Homo sapiens: one gene and its partners. The protein of the gene in region 1 purifies or fractionates together with the protein of each later gene. This does not show direct contact. Each region holds a gene or a part of one and is shown in the gene's direction. Other genes may lie near its edges. The genes, in order: TIMM44, OAT, FAM98B, GRPEL2 and COL3A1.

Region 1 (3,517 bases):
CAGCCTCCCGGATAGCTGGGATTACAGGCGCCCGCCACCACACCCAGCTGATTTGTTGTTGTTGTTGTTGTTGTTTTTTGAAGCAGAGTCTTACTCCATTGCCCAGGCTGGAGTGCAGTGGTACGATTTTGGCTCAACACAACCTCTGCCTCCTAGGCTCAAGCGATTCTCCTGCCTCAGCCTCCCGAGTAGCTGGGATTACAGACACACACCACTACTGCCCAGCTAATTTTTGTATTTTTAGTAAAGACAGGGTTTCACCATGTTGGCCAGGCTGGCCTTGAACTCCTGACCTCAAATGATCCACCTGCCTTGGCCTTCCAAAGTGCTGAGATTACAGGTGTGAGCCAGTGCGCCCAGCCCTATATATCTTTTTATAGAGACGGGGTTTCACCATGTTGGCCAGGCTGGTCTCAAACTCCTGGCCTCAAGTGATCTGCCCGTCTCAGCTTCCCAAAGTGCTGGGATTACAGGTGTGAGCCACTGCTCCCAGCCTGTCATTATTAATTGTCACTTCTCTTCTTGAGCAGCTGCCAAGCCCTGGCTTCTGGGAATGGCTCTGCATTCCTTTATTTGTAAGGGCCCTGCGAGGCAGTTACAGTGTCCCCATTTTACCAATGAGCAGCTGAGCCTCAGAGATGCAGGCACCTGCCACGGGTCCCTTGCATTTTGGTTTGGTTTGGTTTCATTTGTGTTTTTTTGTTTGTTCGTTTTTTGTTTTTCTCCTTTGAGATGGAGTCTTGCTCTGTCAGCCAGGCTGGAGTGCAATGGTGCGATCTCGGCTCACTGCAACCTCCGCCTCCCTGGGTTCAAGCGATTCTCCTGCCTCAGCCTTCCAAATAGCTGGAATTATAGGCGCCCACCACCACGCCAGGCTAATTTTTGTATTTTTAGTGGAGACGGGGTTTCATCACTTTGGCCAGGCTGGTGTTGAACTCCTGACCTCAGGTGATCCATCCGCCTTGGCCTCCCAGAGTGCTGGGATTACAGGCATGAGCCACCGTGCCCAGCCTAGTTTGGTTTTTTGAGACAGGGTCTTGCTCTGTCACCCTGGCTGGAGTGCAGTGGTGTGATCACAGCTCACTGCAGTTTTGACCTTCCCATGTTCAGGTGATTCTCCCACCTCAGCCTCCTGAGTAGCTGTGACTAAAGGCATGGGATACCACGCCTGGCTAATTTTTTTATATTTCTAGAGACAGGGTCTCGCCATGTTGCCTGTGCTGGTCTCGAACTCTCTGGGCTCAAGCGATCCTCCCATCTCAGCTTCCCAAAGAGCTGGGACTACAGCTCACATGCCCAGCCCCTCTTTATCATTAATGCAGGGGTCATCTGAAGACATAGCAGGCTGAGTTTGGAGTGGGATGGATGGAGCGGGAGACATAAGACCAAGCTGTGGTGGCTGGAGGCTGGATGAGGGGCACAGTGATGACAGGCAAGGCCACCTCCTACCACCCGGTGAAAGGTGAAGGCTGGGCCTCCTGTTCTCAGGAGGTAGCTGCCAAGCGGGGACCCGAGTCTGCCGGCCTTCTGAGCAAGGAGCTCACCGCTGCTGAGACCCTCAATCCAAGCCATGTGGGCAGCCGGGGGCCCTGGAGGCAGCACATGCTGGCAGGTGCGGGGAGGGAGGGGCTGCGGAGAAGATGCTTCTTGGACCTTTGGCTGTAAGAGAAATGTCACTGCCGTGTCAGAACATACAGACTTAAAGACACAACGGTTGGCCAGGCACAGTGGCTCACACCTATAATCCCAGCACTTTGGGAGGCCGAGGCGGGTGGATCACTTGAGGTCAGAAGTTTGAGACCAGCCTGGCCAACGTGGTAAAACCCTGTCTCTACTGAAAATACAAAAATTAGCCAGGCATGGTGGTGGGCCCTGTAGTCCCAGCTACTCGGGAGGCTGGGGCAGGAAAATCGCTTGAATCTGGCAGGAGGAAGTTGCAGTGAGCCGAGAGCGTGCCACTGTACTCCAGCCTCGGCAACGGAGACATTGTCTCAAAAAAAAAAAAAAAAAAAAGGACACAGCGCTCTTTACCTAGAAAACCATCGAGTCAGAAACCGTGCGGACGAGCGAGGTGCTACGGAAGAAGCTTGGGGAGCTGACGGGCACCGTGAAGGAGGTAACAGTTCCACGCCCGCCTGGAGCCGCTGGGGCCATCAAAGTCCCCTGGCCGCTGGAGGCTGGAGGAAGAGTCGGCTCCTGGGTGGGGGTGGCTTGGCAGCAGTGGGTGGCATGGGGCGTGCTGCCACCCTCGGGAAGGTTTCAGGAGTTCCCGGCACATGCAGGGTGAGGTCAGACTGGCAACCTTGCATGACCGTTGACCCAGGGAGTCGGCAGCAGTAAGTGCTGCTAGCCAGGACTCGAGGAGAACATGAAAATGTTTTTCCTGCCTAAAAATAGGAGGAGAGGGGCCGCTTCCACCCCCTCCCGAGGGTAGAGGCGGGAGGCAGGATTCCTGGGGTGCTGCGGCTCTCCTCGGTTGTCTGTTCTGTCCAGCTTTGCGCAGCATGGGGCGCCCTCACCGCCGTTCTTTCCCCGGGGTCCCCTCCTTGGGAATCCTTGCTGCCAGGCAGTTCCCGGGTCTCCAGAGGACTCCTGCCCATTTTGGAAAGGGGCCAGCAGACCCAGCGTCTCACCCAGAGCCCAGGGCCAGCATCCCGGAAGCCGTGGCGGTGTGCTCATGGCTCTGGGGGTGCCGGTGTGCTCATGGCTCTGGGGGTGCCGGTGTGCTCGTGGCTCTGGGGGTGGCGGTGTGCTCGTGGCTCTGGGGGTGCCGTTGTGCTCATGGCTCTGGGGGTGCCGCGTACCACAGGAGCACAGAAGGCCTCTGCCGGCCTCGGGGAACCAGATCCGCCCTTCTCTCCGGCAGGAATTCATTCCTCCTGCCCCGCCCCCCGGCCGCCAGGGCCGGTGCCAACGCCCCCTCTCTGTGTCTGTCTCAGTAGAGCCTTCACGAAGTCAGTAAAAGTGATCTCGGCCGGAAAATCAAGGAGGGCGTGGAGGAAGCAGCCAAGACGGCCAAGCAGTCGGCCGAGTCGGTATCCAAAGGCGGGGAGAAGCTGGGCAGGACAGCGGCCTTCAGAGCCCTCTCCCAGGTGAGCCCAGTCCTGGGCTAGGGCATGCAGCCTGGGGCGGCCGAACCCAGACACCCACCCCAGCCCCGCTGTGCCTCCCTCGCAGGGGGTGGAGTCCGTGAAGAAGGAAATTGACGACAGCGTCCTGGGACAGACCGGGCCCTACCGGAGGCCCCAGCGACTCCGGAAGAGAACGGAGTTTGCGGGAGATAAGTTCAAGGAGGAGAAAGTGTTTGAGCCAAACGAGTAGGTACCAGCCCGTGGCCCTCGCTGCCCCCATTTTGGGCAGCTTTCACTGCTGTCCATTTCGGGAGCCCACCAATGGTTCCCTCCTGAGTCCGTTTCTTGAGTTTGCCTTCTGCCCAAGGTTCCCGGCTCCCTCGAATTTGAGGGTGAGAGGTGAGGGCGGGGTCCTCAGAGCCCCTAGGTTTGAGGTCTCAGCTGCC
Region 2 (3,517 bases), on another chromosome or scaffold:
CTTTTTAAACAGTTTTAAAAATAAATCATGGCACTGTTGATTCTGATATTTCAGAAACTGGCTAGTTTTAAGGGCAAAAGGGAACTGAGTGGCCATTTTGTGCTGGATTTGGCACAGTAACATTAACCCATTTCATCCTCAGTGACACTTCAACCTCCTTTTACAAATGGGGAGACTGAAGCTCAGAAAGATTGACAGAATCACCCAGAGTTACTCTTCAGAACCACAGACAGAATTTAAAATCCCGGTCTCCAAACTCGGGATTTTCCGCTTGATTCTCCCGGTTTTGAAACCTTTTTGGAAGAGGCTGTTATTGATGTTGGCTATTTTTAAGTCCATCTTAATTCTGCTCTAAGATTTCTCATACAGTGCCAAGCACAGTAACTTGAACACAGAAGGTTCTTTAATAGAAATGCGTTTACAGGATTTTGATACATCATGGCTCATCCAGTTTCTGACCTTTCCCAGTTGAATTAAATATCCAGAATTCATCTTAAAAACCTTAAGAATAGCTGACTCAGGGGTGTGTGCCTGTAGTCCCACCTCTTCCTGAGGCTGAGGCAGAAGGATCCCTTGAGCCCAGGTGTTCGAGGCCAACCTGGGCAACATAGCTGAGACTCCATCTGTAAGTGAAAAGAAACAAAAACCTTAAGAATGAGTATTAGTAATGTTTTGAATGATATTATTTTGTCCCCAGTTATTCTTTAATAAAACTGCCTAAACTTAACAGGTAAATGAATTTTTCATCCCATTTCTGTTGGAAATTAGCTGTGCAGATAACTTTTATATAAAATAAGAATGTTGAATTTAGATAATCTCTGATATTCCTTTTTTTTTTTTTTTTTTTTTTTTTTTTTTTTTTTTTAGCGCTTTGTAGCCCAGGCTGGAGTGCTGGTGGCACAGATCGTGGCTCACTGCAGCCCAGAACTCAGGGCTCAAGAGATCTTTCCACCTTAGTCTTAGTCTCCTAAGTACCAGATACTACAGGTACGCATCGCCACACCTGGCTAATATTCATATTTTTTATAGAGATGGGGTCTCCCTATGTTGCCCAGGTTGATCTTTAACTCCTGGGCTCAAGTGATCTGCCTTGGCCTCCCAAAGCGCTGGGATTATAGGCGTGAGCCACCTTGCCTGGCCCTAGAAAGTTGTTACGGTTTAGAGCACCACTAAGTATTGCCTGAGTGTTTTACTGCTAATTTGATAGGCAAAAATTAATGTTCTAATTTTTTAGTTGATCAAACAATTTATTCATACTGAGTAAAGCATAAAGAGTCCAAGAAAGAAATCATACATGAGTGTTTTAGACTTAGCAGTAGTATTTTGGGGAAGTTACATATAGTACAGTTAGACATTTTTGCTAGCAGCTACCTCCAGTTGGATGATTCTTACATCACTTTTGTTTTGATTGTTGGTACCCACCCCTTTGAGATAAAGTCTGATGAAAGTTATGGACCTTCTTCTTGGAAAAATATACGTCTGCATGTAATTCTGCATTTTATTTCAGGAGATTTTGGACTCTCTGCAGACTGTCCCTGGATCTTGGGTTAAAAATCTGTATTCTAGACTGAACCGTGGGAAGAAAAAATAGTCAGTGAGTCTTTGGCAAACCGGAGTACTGGATTTTGTTTAGCAATTGCAAATTCCTGAACATACTGGATTTACTGGGTAGTGCCAAGTTTAAAGGGAAGTAAGCCAAACTCCAAGTATTATGTTTTGCTAATTTGGCAGCTCGAATCAAGAGTGGCTGTGAGATTATACATGGTTTGACTTGTCATTGGTAGACTTCTGTTGAAACATGAATTAACTAGTCTTTTAGAAAGTAAGTATAGATGGAATAAGTATGCCTAGTTTTTGGCAACTTTCTCCTAATCATGAATTTATCTTTAAGCTTTTTTTTTTTTTTTCCTTCCAGAGGTGATTCCTATGCACATGCTCTAATTTCCTTTTAATTATTAGTTTCTTTCATAGCTTAGTTTTTACTTCATGGCTTATCAGGATGCTTAATGGTAAATTGGGTACAAAGAGGTGTGTGAAGCCTTGTGGAGGGGCTAGTTTTAGGGCTGGGGGTGACTGGGGAGAGTAGCTATGGCTCTGACTTATGTGATGGGGCGGCAGGGTAAACACCAGCCTGCTCAGTGATGTTTAGACTTTAACACTCATACAAGTAACGGATTGTAGTTTGTAGTTTGACTCTCTCTAGTTTCTCAGTTACCTTTTGCTAACAATAGCTTTTTCGTTTGTTTGTTTGTTTTTTGAGACGGAGTTTCACTCTTGTTGCTCAGGCTGGAGTGCAATGCGCAGTCTTGGCTCACTGCAGCCTCGTCCTCCCAAGTTCAAGCGATTCTCCTGCCTTAGCCTCCTGAGTCGCTGGGATTACAGGCATGCACCACCACGCCTGGCTAATTTTGTATTTTCAGTAGAGACGGGGTTTCTCCATGTTGGTCAGGCTGGTCTCGAACTCCCGATTCAGGTGATCGCCTGCCTCTGCCACCCAAAGTGCTGGGATTATAGGCATGAGTCACCGCACCTGGTCAACAATATCTTTTATGCTACAATTTTTCAGGATAAGTTTTGTAGAAACAACCATCCTAGCAGAATAGATTGTTTTGTTTGGGAATCTCATATATGTGTGTGTGTGTGTGTGTGTGTGTGTGTGTGTGTGTGTGTGTATGTATTTATGTATGTATGTATATGTTGGTCTAATTCAACTTGCTGTGAACACTTTAAAGCTATTATAAGTTAACATTTTTTTCCTAGTCTTTTTGCCTTTCACCTTTGTTTATGATAAATTTGACCTACAGAAGTTTTAGATATTTGTGGCTAAATAAAAGATTTTAGGCTGGGCACAGTGGCTCACACCTTTAATTCGAAAACTTTGGGAGGCCGTGGTGGGCGGACTGCTTGAGCCCAGAGGGATGGACAGTTCCTCTGTCTCCTGCCCCATGCCTAGTCTCTGGCAGTCTTCTCTGATTTGGTCTCCCTGCCTCTGGTCTCTGCCCTACAGTTGTAGCTGTCTCATAGCATTGTGCCTGATGGTATCGGACTGTGGTAGGTGCTTAACAAATACTTAGTGTTTAGCAGGTACTCAGTCAACACACAGTGCATTAGCTCTGGAAAGAGTCTTACTCTTATTGATTGGTTGGTTGATTGATTGCCTGATTGACAGGGTATCACTCTGTTGCCCAGGCTGGCCTCAAACTCTTGGGCTCAAGTGATCCTCCCGCCTCAGCCTCCTGAGCAGCTGGGGGCTACAGGCACAAACCACCACACCTGACTCAAGATTCTCACTCTTTTTTTTTCTTTTATAGAGACTATGTTGCCTAGGCTGGTCTTTAACTCCTCGGCTCAAGCGATCCTCCCATCTTGGCCTCCCAAGGTGCTGGAATTACAGATGTGAGCTATCACGCCTGGCCATTTTTTTTTTCTTGAGACTGGGCCTTTCTTTGTCTCCCAGGTTGGAGTACAGTGGCACAATCTCAGCTCACTGCAGCCTCAACTTCCGGGCTCAAGCAAT
Region 3 (3,517 bases), on another chromosome or scaffold:
GTATTTGGTTAGGCTCTCAAATAAAATCATTATGCAACTTGGAAGAAAGTATCACGTCTGCTGGTATTGCCATTATGTTGTATTTACTTTTCTGTTTAATAGTAAACTGATAACTTACGGTTTATAGTTTTATCAATAATGTGCCCACTGTACAAAGAAAAATCACATATTCCAAAGAATTTCAGTATGTGGTAGTAAACATTTTTGGATTAAATTTTATATTAATCCAGAATTGATATTTAAATTTGCTATAAAACTATAAGCAATTACTATTTATCTGCTATTTTTTTCTCTTCCTGACGGCTCTGATATCTGCTGTCTAAACCTTAGTATTGTTTTTTAGAAAAAGTAGGGTCTGAATTTGATTATTTAAAAGTTTAATTTTTGAATGGTGCTCATGTTGAATTAAGGCTTAAAATATTATATATATATAATTCCTAATTTGTGTTCTGAAGCTTGTAGCTCAGGATATGGATTCACATAGGAATACTTCTATTAAAAACTTCTGTACTAGCTCATAAAGCTTCTTTAGTTCATTACCATCTTAGTAACTGGAGTCCTGTGGGTCTTTGGTAGAATTTCGGATATTAATAGTATAATAAAAAGAAAAATTAAAAATTGTGCATTCACAAAAGTAGCTTTTTCTTTGAAAAGTATCCTTTTTTTCTTAAGAGATGGGGTCTTGTTATGTTGCACAGACTGGACTTGAACTCCTGGGCTCAAGCAACCCTCTCACCCCACCCTCCCAAGTAGTTGAAACTGCAGGTGTGGGCTACCGCACCCAGCCAGATCTAACAGTTCACTTGACGCAAAGTAAACTAATTTGAATTCTAAACATATAACACGACTGCCTACATAATTACATTATGAAATAAAGATAAGCAGTGAGGGTTAATTAGATGGTTGCATTTATTTTCTGAATATATAGAAATATAGTAGAAATGGATCATTTGCTCTGAAGTGAATTAATAATTATAGCCATAATAATGCTTTTACTATTTCAGTTGTTAACGTAAGCTTCGTGATCACACATTTAAGGATTTAATGTGAAAATTTAGAATTGAATGTAAAATGGAAATAAACGAGTAGATTTTATAGTATTGGATTATATGGTAAATGCTCAGTAAATGTTTTATGATTTTTCTTTTTTAAAGGAAGAGATGATCTAGAGAGCTTCCAGCTTGAGATAAGTGGCTTTTTAAAAGAAATGGCATGTCCATATTCTGTACTCATATCAGGAGATATTAAAGATCGTTTAAAAAAGAAGGAGGACTGTTTGAAACTTCTATGTAAGTTATCTTGAACATTTAAATGCATGTGTTTGACATGGTTTTTATTATTTTCAAGTCAAGATTTATTAATGAAGCATTAGACATTTTGTATATTAAAAGGGTTTTAATATTTTACTTAAAATACAAAGCTATCTCAGAAATGTTTATATAATATAGTATAAATTTTACCAGTATGCCTTCTAACACTTGTGATTTATTTGGCCAATATAGAATGTCCTGTGTTTGTGATTTATATAGTACTTTAGTAATTTTTCCTTTATCTCATTCTATCTGTTATTGTTCGTGACTATATGGCTAACATTGATGATCTCCAAAGTCCTATTTAATCTAAAAACTCTCTGAAACTAGGCACTGGATGATAATTTGTTGATCACTTACTCTAACACCAAGAACTGCTCTGGATACTAGGGATATATGAGGGTTGCTTGTTTTGTTTTTTTTTAAAAAATATAAAATTTGTGCCTTTAGGACACTTTAAATGTGGCCAGTTTCATCAGGGAGGGATTTGGAATATAGGTCATACTGTATTCAAACAATTACCATAAATAGTAGGTCCATGTTTGTGTTGGGTTCCTTTCATCATTTTTTTACTTTAGGCTAATTTTATAATGTTTTTAAAGTTCTACAAACAATGACTATTTGAAAGAATTTTTCTAATACCTTCTATTATTGAAGATTTCTATTTCAGATCATGCCATTTATAAAAAGATTACACGTGACATATTCCTCCTAGGCGCTAGTGTTTTAATAAAGTTTGTTTCATTAGAGATGAAATTTGTGTGTGTGTGTGTGTGTGTGTGTGTGTGTGTGTGTTTAGTGGTGACAAAAGTATTGGCATTGAAATTACCTTGTGTGTGTTGAGTGGGGATAAAAATTATATGCCCTCTCTCTCCATCCCAATACACCATTCTCCATCTTCCTCCCATTTGGTGTGAGTCACTGATTTAATGAACCACTGTTATTGGGAGATCACAGTAACTCTTAGGTATATTGGGACAGAAAGGAACCTAGGAAACACCGGCTAGAGGAACTTGCATATCCTTAATATCAGTCAATGAGAATTATGTAATCCATCATGGTTCCCTTTCTCCTTAGCTGCTAAGAAGCTTAGCAATTGTAGTGATACAGGTTTCTGGTACAAGTAGGAATAAAAAAGAAATTTAACAGAAATATATAGTTTTTTTCTGATTATAAAAATAACATGTTCAGGAGGGCGGTGATGAGGAGTTAGTGTTTAATGGGTACAGAGTTTCAGTGAGGAAGACGAAAAAGTTCTGAAGATGGATGGTGACGTCATAGAACTGTATACTTAAAAATGATTAAAATGGTAAATTTTATATGTGCAAAAATTACATGCTTATCATAGAAATCTTAGAAAATACATAAAACATAAAGAAGAAAAGCATTTATAATCTCACTCCCTAGAGAGAATATTGTGTCTCTGTTTTCTGTGTACATACACACAACACTCTCACACTCGCACTCACTCTTAAATAAGATTAAGATCCTGTTTCAGATCCTTCTCCTCCTCCTCTTCATTTGATGTGTCGTTTTTCTCTTTATTTCCCTATCACTTGTTTTTTGAAAAACTAAATTGGCTCTGCTATTGACATAACATTATGTGTAATAGATTTCAAATTTGGAGGTATTTGGATTTTTTTCTATTTTAAAATGATTTCCTTGTTTATATTTTTGCTTACTTAGACAAAGATTAGGAACATTTAAAATAGTCTCCGGTCTAGATGTATATTGCCATATTTTGCTCCAGAAAGGTTATACTAGTTCACAGTCTTACCAGCATCTAGTCTTTCTTCAGTTTGACTGTTTTAATCATATTGATATAATAAGCTTCTTCATGTTCTTTTTGAAAGTGTTTGCAACATGTATAAAATTAAAAGGGCCAAATCCTGTACTATGTAAAGAGCTTTTATAAATCAACAGGAAAAAGATAAAAATCCACTGGGAAAATGTGTAAAATACATAAGACATGAACACGCATTCTACAGAAAATTTTTTTTTAACTGCTTCTAAGCATGACAAGATGCACAATATCACTTATGACAGGATACCATTTTTCACTCAAAAAATCATAATAGAAGTTTGGGGGAGTAAGCCTTTTCGTATACTACAGACATTAGACTGTGGTGGGAGAATAACTTGTACAGCCTCTTAGGAGGACACATTTTCAATGTCACATTAAAATTCACTTGGCTTTTGGACTTGGC
Region 4 (4,129 bases), on another chromosome or scaffold:
CTGTCTATTACAAACATCAGTAATTGAGAGGGAAGAAATCTGGTCTCTGCTCTTTCCTAGTCATTACAGAACAAGAACAATGAGGAAGAGAATTAAGCTATAATTCTAAGAAGCAGAACTACAAAACATGCTACATGGACTCAGACCACAGCCACATCTCTCTCAAAGCTTCAAGTATTTGGGAGGTTCCAACAGCTTTTAGGTTTTATTTATTTTCACATTCCATTGCAATCAGAATCAGACTAAATTGCATTCAGCAAAAAAGTTTTTTGAAGCCGGGGGCGGTGGCTCATGCCTGTAATCCCAGCACTTTGGAAGGCTGAGGAAGGCAGATCACCTGAGGTCAGGAGTTCAAGCCCAGCCTAACCAACATGGTGAAACCCTGTCTCTACTAAAAATACAAAAATTAGCCGGGTGTAGTGGGCGCCTGTAATCCCAGCTACTGAGGAGGCTGAGGCAGGAGAATCACTTGAACCTGGGAGGCAGAGGTTGCAGTGAGCCGAGATCGTGCCACTGCACTCCAGCCTGGGTGACAGAGTGAGACTCCATCTCAAAAAAAATAATTTTGAACACCTACATTAGGGCACTGCTCAATGGGAATGAATAGACAATATCTCTGCCTTAAAAGAGCTTATATTTTAGTGAGAGGAAATGAGAAAATACACACTATTTAAAAAAACAATTCAGTCGATAAGAAGGGCATTAGAGAAAAAGACTGGGAGGAGTGATGGGCAATGGTTCAGGCTGCGATGTTTTAAACCGCTCACGTGATCTAGCCCTTCCTAACCACCAGTCCTGTTGCCCTCCCGCCTCAGTATATTTCAGTCCCTTACATGCAATACTCTTCTCTCTTTATTAGGCTTCTGCAGATGTTTCCCTCTGCCTGAACCCTTTCTTCAGCTCAGCTCAAATACCCCCTTCCTCTGGGAAAACTTTCCACAAGGCTAGATTTCTATTCTAGGCTTCCGCGACACCTGCCCCTCACCTTCAAACACCGCTCATATTCTGACTTTACATCCCGCTTGTATCTGTTTATCGCTCATAATATCAAGTAAGCTCCATGCGGGCACAGCTATGATCTGCTTTCTTTGCTGCCGACCCTGCGCCCAGCACGGAGACTGTAGTTACTACTAGGACCTCGCCTACCCGCGGAACACACTGAGAGCCGGAAGTGTTGCCTTAGCTCCGGACGACCGGATGGGGAACGGCGCGGCCCATCGGGCAACCGGAAGCATAGCGTTCCTGTCCGGAAGTCCTGAGAGGGAAACGCCCGCAAAGGCTGGTTTTTAAGCGGGAGCATCTCTTCACTCGCAGCAAGTGCGCGTGCGCTGCCTCTCAGCCCAAATTGGAAACATGGCCGTACGGTCGCTGTGGGCGGGCCGGCTGCGGGTGCAGCGCCTACTGGCCTGGAGTGCCGCGTGGGAGAGCAAGTAAGCATTGCAGGCGGGGAGTCGGGAGCGTGAGGACTCTGAGGGGCTAGCGAGCCAGCCGGGGTGGTTGTGGGCTGGAAGGCGAGAGCTATCTGAGCGTAGGCCAGGGGACCAAGCTTCTCGGCCTCTACGACCGTGCACTCACGGCCCCATTTTACAGACGGGGAAACTGAGGCCATCAGCCGTGCCTCTTTCTTAGGCCGAGGAAGGTAAGGAGATCCGAGGTCATGCATGGCCTGGAAGGTGAGAAGTCTCTTAAGCCCCCAAGGGAGGGATGTACCACTCTCCCGGCCTCTTCTCCCAGCCTGTGGTACCTGTGGGTAAATTTGGGTTCTCTCCCCTCACTCCGTGTGACCTAAGGCCAGTCCTTTCTCCGTTATCCGGGCACTGTTGTACCTGTCAGTAAAAGGAGGCCGCTGAACTTGTTTCTCCAAACGGCCATTGCATCAGCCTTCGGAAGACAAGTTCCATCGGCAGCTTTTATTGGTCGCTTACGAGGCCGACTGCAGAATTATGGGTGGTTCTTTTTATTATTACCCATTTAGTAGTTAAGGAAAGTGAGGTTTAGAAAAGTTGAGTAACTTCCAAACTTAAATATTTGGGAAGTGGTGGAACCCGGGCTGGAAACCAGTCAGGGCGTTGGAATCGGCGCTCTTATTTAATGAGCGATGTTAATTAATTTTCTCAGAGACTGTTGCCCCTACACTGTTTCTTCCTGGGATAGAGAATAAAAATAGTTGAGTACGAGGTAGGGTTGGACCTCTGAATAGTAAAGTAAGCTACGGGAGAATCTGGTAAATGTGCTTAACTACATATGTCACCCTTTTTACCTTAACACACCTGACCCAACATCCTACCCTAGCACCTAAGTGAGAGGTTGCATTCAGGGTTTCGGGACTTGGTTTTGCTTACCGTTCTCAAGTCTTTTTGGCAGCTTGTTGGTGATGTAAGGAAATGACCAGAAGAAAAATGGTTCCTTCTGGTAAGCTGTCTCCCTACTCCAGTTCTGAAGCAGTAGGAATTGAGATTGGCCACAACTCCCCAACCCTATTTCTTGGTCTAAGCTTTGGCCATTTTCCCTTTGAACTGGCCCTGAGAATTTTTTTTTTTTTTTTTTTTTTTTTTTTTTTTTTTTTTTTGAGACGGAGTCTCACTCTGTCGCCCAGGCTGGAGTGCAGTGGCACAATCTCGGCTCACTGCAAGCTCCGCCTCCCGGGTTCACGCCATTCTCCTGCCTCAGCCTCCCGAGTAGCTGGGACTACAGGCGCCCGCCACTACGCCCAGCTAATTTTTTGTATTTTTAGTAGAGACGGGGTTTCACCGTGGTCTCGATCTCCTGACCTCGTGATCCGCACGCCTCGGCCTCCCAAAGTGCTGGGATTACAGGCGTGAGCCACCGCGCCCGGCCCCTGAGAATATTTTGACCTGCTTTTTCAAGTGGATAAATGTGGTTTTTTTAGGGAGAAGATGTTTCACCGTGTGTAATTAGCCCCAGATCTACGGTGACCATATTTTCTGACCCCAAAATGTGGAACTGTCTATAAAATCACACACCGGATTATAATAATTGAATTTAAGATCAGCTTGGAAAGTAGGAGAGATAAAAGTCCTCTTGCTTACACCTTTAAACTAGCTATTTGCTCTGCCCAGGATGCTCTTCCCTTTTCTAAAGCTGACTCCTTTACCCTCTTTAAGCCTTTGCTCAGCTGTCTCCGTGAGGACCACTCTACAGTATATGCCAGTCCATAAAAATTGTTTTAAAGAACTCATGTACTCACAGATTGATTTTCAAGATAATTTTACTTACAGTCAAATTACGAAGATCCAGGAGTTGCAGTGGAAACTTCCTTGAACTGGGCCAGGTCAGGACTGCCACAGCCCAAGATTTGCTGTAAACTAGCCCCTAGTCTAAATTTATTTCTGTGTAAACTGAACTAAATGTCAAAACAGTTTAGCTGTACAAAATTCTAGATTACATAACTAGTTGAATGCAAAGATCTATTTTCACCTGTGTCTATTCACCGGCAGTAACATATAGTATTGTATAAGTATTTCATTGACTTGATCTTATTTATAGGTGGGAATTTCTTTCTCAGCACAGGTCTCCTAAAAGCCTTACAGGTTGTGGTGAGGAAGGCTTAGAATTCTAAGCCTTAAGGTCCCTTTACTGGACTTAATTTCCCTCATCTGTAAGTTAGAAGGTTGAACCAGAACTATATGACTTTTTGAATGCCCACTTCTGACAATGCTCCTCTGGTTCTGGGTACTAGCATTTGGTTTCCTTATGCTGACTTTTGTATACCCAGTTCTGGCTATTTCTGCTGCCTGGTTCTTAGTGTCCTGACCCAGCGGAATACCAACTATGTGATCTTGAGCAGGCCATTATGCCTTAAGCCTCTCAGCATCAGTTTTCTCATCTGTAAAATAGGGATAATGATAGGACTTATCTCACATATTGTTGTGAGAGGAAAAGATGACTCAAGTAAAACAGTGTCTGGTACATGGTAAGGACTTCGTAAGTGTTCATTTGTTACTATAACTGAAAACACTTTCTCCAGAGATTCCATCTGGGAAGATCTCTGGTCTCTAAACTTGGTTGTAATTTTGGCTTATGATGGCATTTCTTCATTATGTGCCACCTCCTTCCTGTTTTAGGGGATGGCCGCTTCCATTCAGCACTGCCACCCAGAGAACTGCTG
Region 5 (3,517 bases), on another chromosome or scaffold:
TTTGTTTGTCAACTATTAACTTCTTAATTTTCTTATGCCATGATATTTGAGATTTAACATTTAGTTTTGAAATATTATCAAAACAAAGACAAATTATTTAAAAGATAACTATTATATAGAGTTTGAATTTTACCATAAAATAGAGAGTTCATAGTTTCAAGATTTGAAAAATTATACAGTATGCCAACATGACAAATGTGTATTTTGCTTATATTTACATATTTGCTTATATTTACATATTTGCTTATATTTACATAAAATGCACTCTGATATGGGCCTAATCATATAATGCCAATCTCCCAGGGTCCAAAGGGTGATGCCGGTGCACCTGGAGCTCCAGGAGGCAAGGTAGTATTTCAATTTATTCTCTACCTTCTTCAGCAGGTTATAGAGCAATTGATTAGTAGTATATTTTTAGTATATCAAGCCAAAATACTCTTTCTTTAAAAGAGCATCATTGCAAATGTTTGGTAAGTACACTTAGAGAAACTCAAGACACTTTCAATACATTAAATTTGCTTTAATCTGGAAGGTCCAATTCTCTGACATTCATAATCACTACAGAATCAAATACGGGCTTAAAATTTCAAACGGAAAAATATTGCCAATATGTTGATTCTATGTAGGAAAACTGTTTTGGTAAAAAGAACTTTAAAATGTTGCTCTTGTGAATAAAATAATAAGTATTTCAATGACAGCTCACACTTAACCAGACTAAGTATCCAAGTTTTATTTTAGACACTCTTTTAAGCTTCTAGTTCCCACCCAGCTGTTCAACTATTTTTAAGTATACAAATTTCTAGATTGTTCACAATATAATAACCTAGTGGCCTGATTCAAAATGATGCAAGTTAAGGTGCTTTGTTTTTAGCTTTGGGTTGTCTAATATGGTTATTTACATATTTTTGTCACAGGGTGATGCTGGTGCCCCTGGTGAACGTGGACCTCCTGGATTGGCAGGGGCCCCAGGACTTAGAGGTGGAGCTGGTCCCCCTGGTCCCGAAGGAGGAAAGGTAACTCCACAGCATTCCATTCACCTAGGTTTAAAAAATGCATTTGATTTCCTTCTGATCATTTATTATTTCTCACTTATTTTCAGGGTGCTGCTGGTCCTCCTGGGCCACCTGGTGCTGCTGGTACTCCTGGTCTGCAAGGAATGCCTGGAGAAAGAGGAGGTCTTGGAAGTCCTGGTCCAAAGGGTGACAAGGTGTTGACTTGTTTTCTCTTAATTGTTCAATAAATCAGTCATTGTAGGTTTTAAAAAAAGCAACACTCCTGGAAAGTAATCGACTGTATTTTCAAAATTAATGTTATCATTTTATAGTAAGTGAAATTTAAGATGGATTCCTAAAGCAACAATGAATTAGAACACCCAATATATATCCCTACAAATCCTGAGAGTTACTCCTCTTCTTGGCTGATTTTCACTGAAGATACTTTGAATCTGATGACATTGGCTTTTATTTGACAGGGTGAACCAGGCGGTCCAGGTGCTGATGGTGTCCCAGGGAAAGATGGCCCAAGGGTGAGTATTCCCAGTGAGGAGAAGCAGGCCTTATCTATATGTCATATGGGACAGTCCTGCACTTCAACTTTAATTTTTTCCAAAAACTACTCAAGAGAAATTAGATATTTTACCACCTAAAGACCCGAATGACTTGATTTATAATGAAATTTGTGGTCTATATCTATGGCTACTTGATAGATCTACAGTGACTAAAGAATGAAAAAGCCTCAAGAGTACGATAAAGGTCACAAACTAGCATTTGTGAGTCACTAAAATCTGAGATAATCACTGAAATTTAGGATAATCAATGCTGCTCATTAAGAAACTAAAAGTCATCAAAATTCAATATAGTAAGTACTCCTCATTAATAGACTTAATATTTAAAAATTGTATAGTATTTAGCAACAAAAAGGAATGAACAATTGATGCTGTACACACAGCAAATTATACAAACCTCAAGGACAACATACTCAGTGAAGAAAATTCAGTCACCAAGGGATACATACTGCATGATTCCATTCCTACAATATTTGCAAAATAACTTCCTTGTAGAGATGTAGAACAGATTAGTGGTTGCTAGCAGTTAAGAATGAGAAAGAGAGAGATGGATGTGGCTATGGAGACATGACACAAGGGAGTCTTATGGTGATTGCACATTTGAGTATCTTGATTGAGGTGGTAGTCAGGCACATCTACACATGGGATAAAATTCTATAGAGCTACATATACACACACATAAATGAGTGTGTGTATCACTGGTGAAATCTGAACATGCTCTATGGATGGTATCAATGTCAATTTCCTAGTTTTGATATTATATTATAGTTGTGTAAGATGTTAACATTAGGGGACGCTGGGAGAAAAGTGCACAGAATTTCCCTGTATATTCCTTTGCAGCATCCTATGAATCTATAATTCAAACTAAAAGTCAAAAACAAAACAAAAAACATCTCCTAAATATGATTATAATTAAGTCTTTTAATAAATTTATATAATAGTTGCCTTAAAGAAATTCATAAATGCTTCGCTTTTGACAGACTAAGTAGATAAGCCGTCATTCAGGTAAAAAGAGTGCTCAATACTTCAGTTTTGTAATATAAGTAAAACTACTATTTGAAAATTTCAAGTTGAAAAATTTAATATGTACAATGAGACTTTGAGAAAACATTTAAATTATCAAGCAATTGAATAAAGAAATGTACTTTAATTTAAAAAGACATTACTGTAAGATCTTACATGACATCCTATTTATCTTCTACAATGGAGATAAAGATAAATGAATCAATAAACTATTGCTGAATCCTATTTTCTCCCAGAGTTATCCCCAAAGAGGCTTGTGTTTACTGAGCTCTGCAGTATTTACACATTGAGAGAAAAGCATAGCATTCAAGCCATAAAAATTTTTAAAAAGTATGTTATCTAGTTTATTAGGTATCTATGTCTATATACTTTCTGTTTGATTAATGCAAAAAACGATATTTGTATCTTCAAAATTAAAAAATATTTTTATTTCCTCTAGGGTCCTACTGGTCCTATTGGTCCTCCTGGCCCAGCTGGCCAGCCTGGAGATAAGGTAACCCTTAATACTACCTGGATATAAAAAGAAAATGTCTCTCTCTTTTGGATGCAAGACAGTGACATGGCTTCTCTTTTTCCAGGGTGAAGGTGGTGCCCCCGGACTTCCAGGTATAGCTGGACCTCGTGGTAGCCCTGTAAGTGTTAAAGACATTCTCAACATACTTTTTAACCCCATACAGACAGTAGCTACTTATGCTTCCCTTTTTGGCAGTTTTGCCCTCAGTTCCCTGAGCCTCAATTTGGAGATATTATCTTCAAAAACCATATAAGGAACCATATAGCATGCAAGGGAATGTTAAATTTCTTAAATCTAACATTCACAGGAGACCATTTTAAATCAGGATTTCTTTCCTAAATAACTTTGGAAAAAATACATGAATTGCACAAGTAGTACATGTTTGTAATTAGGTATTTCTTAAGCCTATAGAATCT

Evidence for each region.
Region 2: the proteins of TIMM44 (region 1) and OAT fractionate together in Homo sapiens (co-fractionation; one large-scale study listed by BioGRID). This does not show direct contact.
Region 3: the proteins of TIMM44 (region 1) and FAM98B fractionate together in Homo sapiens (co-fractionation; one large-scale study listed by BioGRID). This does not show direct contact.
Region 4: the proteins of TIMM44 (region 1) and GRPEL2 fractionate together in Homo sapiens (co-fractionation; one large-scale study listed by BioGRID). This does not show direct contact.
Region 5: the proteins of TIMM44 (region 1) and COL3A1 purify together in Homo sapiens (affinity purification with mass spectrometry; one large-scale study listed by BioGRID and IntAct). This does not show direct contact.

The regions. Positions count from the first base shown.
Region 1 is NC_000019.10:7,933,664-7,937,180, reverse strand, and holds part of TIMM44 (mitochondrial import inner membrane translocase subunit TIM44), read left to right. Parts: intron 1-2,035; coding exon 2,036-2,116; intron 2,117-2,942; coding exon 2,943-3,092; intron 3,093-3,177; coding exon 3,178-3,317; intron 3,318-3,517. UniProt on the Homo sapiens protein: Essential component of the PAM complex, a complex required for the translocation of transit peptide-containing proteins from the inner membrane into the mitochondrial matrix in an ATP-dependent manner.
Region 2 is NC_000010.11:124,412,423-124,415,939, reverse strand, and holds part of OAT (ornithine aminotransferase, mitochondrial isoform 1 precursor), read left to right. Parts: intron 1-867; exon of another isoform or gene 868-987; intron 988-1,507; exon of another isoform or gene 1,508-1,822; intron 1,823-3,517. UniProt on the Homo sapiens protein: Catalyzes the reversible interconversion of L-ornithine and 2-oxoglutarate to L-glutamate semialdehyde and L-glutamate.
Region 3 is NC_000015.10:38,464,115-38,467,631, forward strand, and holds part of FAM98B (protein FAM98B), read left to right. Parts: coding exon 1-63; intron 64-1,154; coding exon 1,155-1,289; intron 1,290-3,517. UniProt on the Homo sapiens protein: Positively stimulates PRMT1-induced protein arginine dimethylated arginine methylation.
Region 4 is NC_000005.10:149,344,187-149,348,315, forward strand, and holds the start of GRPEL2 (grpE protein homolog 2, mitochondrial precursor), read left to right. Parts: upstream 1-1,312; 5' UTR 1,313-1,353; coding exon 1,354-1,430; intron 1,431-3,929; exon of another isoform or gene 3,930-4,085; coding exon 4,086-4,129. UniProt on the Homo sapiens protein: Essential component of the PAM complex, a complex required for the translocation of transit peptide-containing proteins from the inner membrane into the mitochondrial matrix in an ATP-dependent manner.
Region 5 is NC_000002.12:188,998,371-189,001,887, forward strand, and holds part of COL3A1 (collagen alpha-1(III) chain preproprotein), read left to right. Parts: intron 1-303; coding exon 304-348; intron 349-914; coding exon 915-1,013; intron 1,014-1,099; coding exon 1,100-1,207; intron 1,208-1,471; coding exon 1,472-1,525; intron 1,526-3,026; coding exon 3,027-3,080; intron 3,081-3,165; coding exon 3,166-3,219; intron 3,220-3,517. UniProt on the Homo sapiens protein: Collagen type III occurs in most soft connective tissues along with type I collagen. Involved in regulation of cortical development.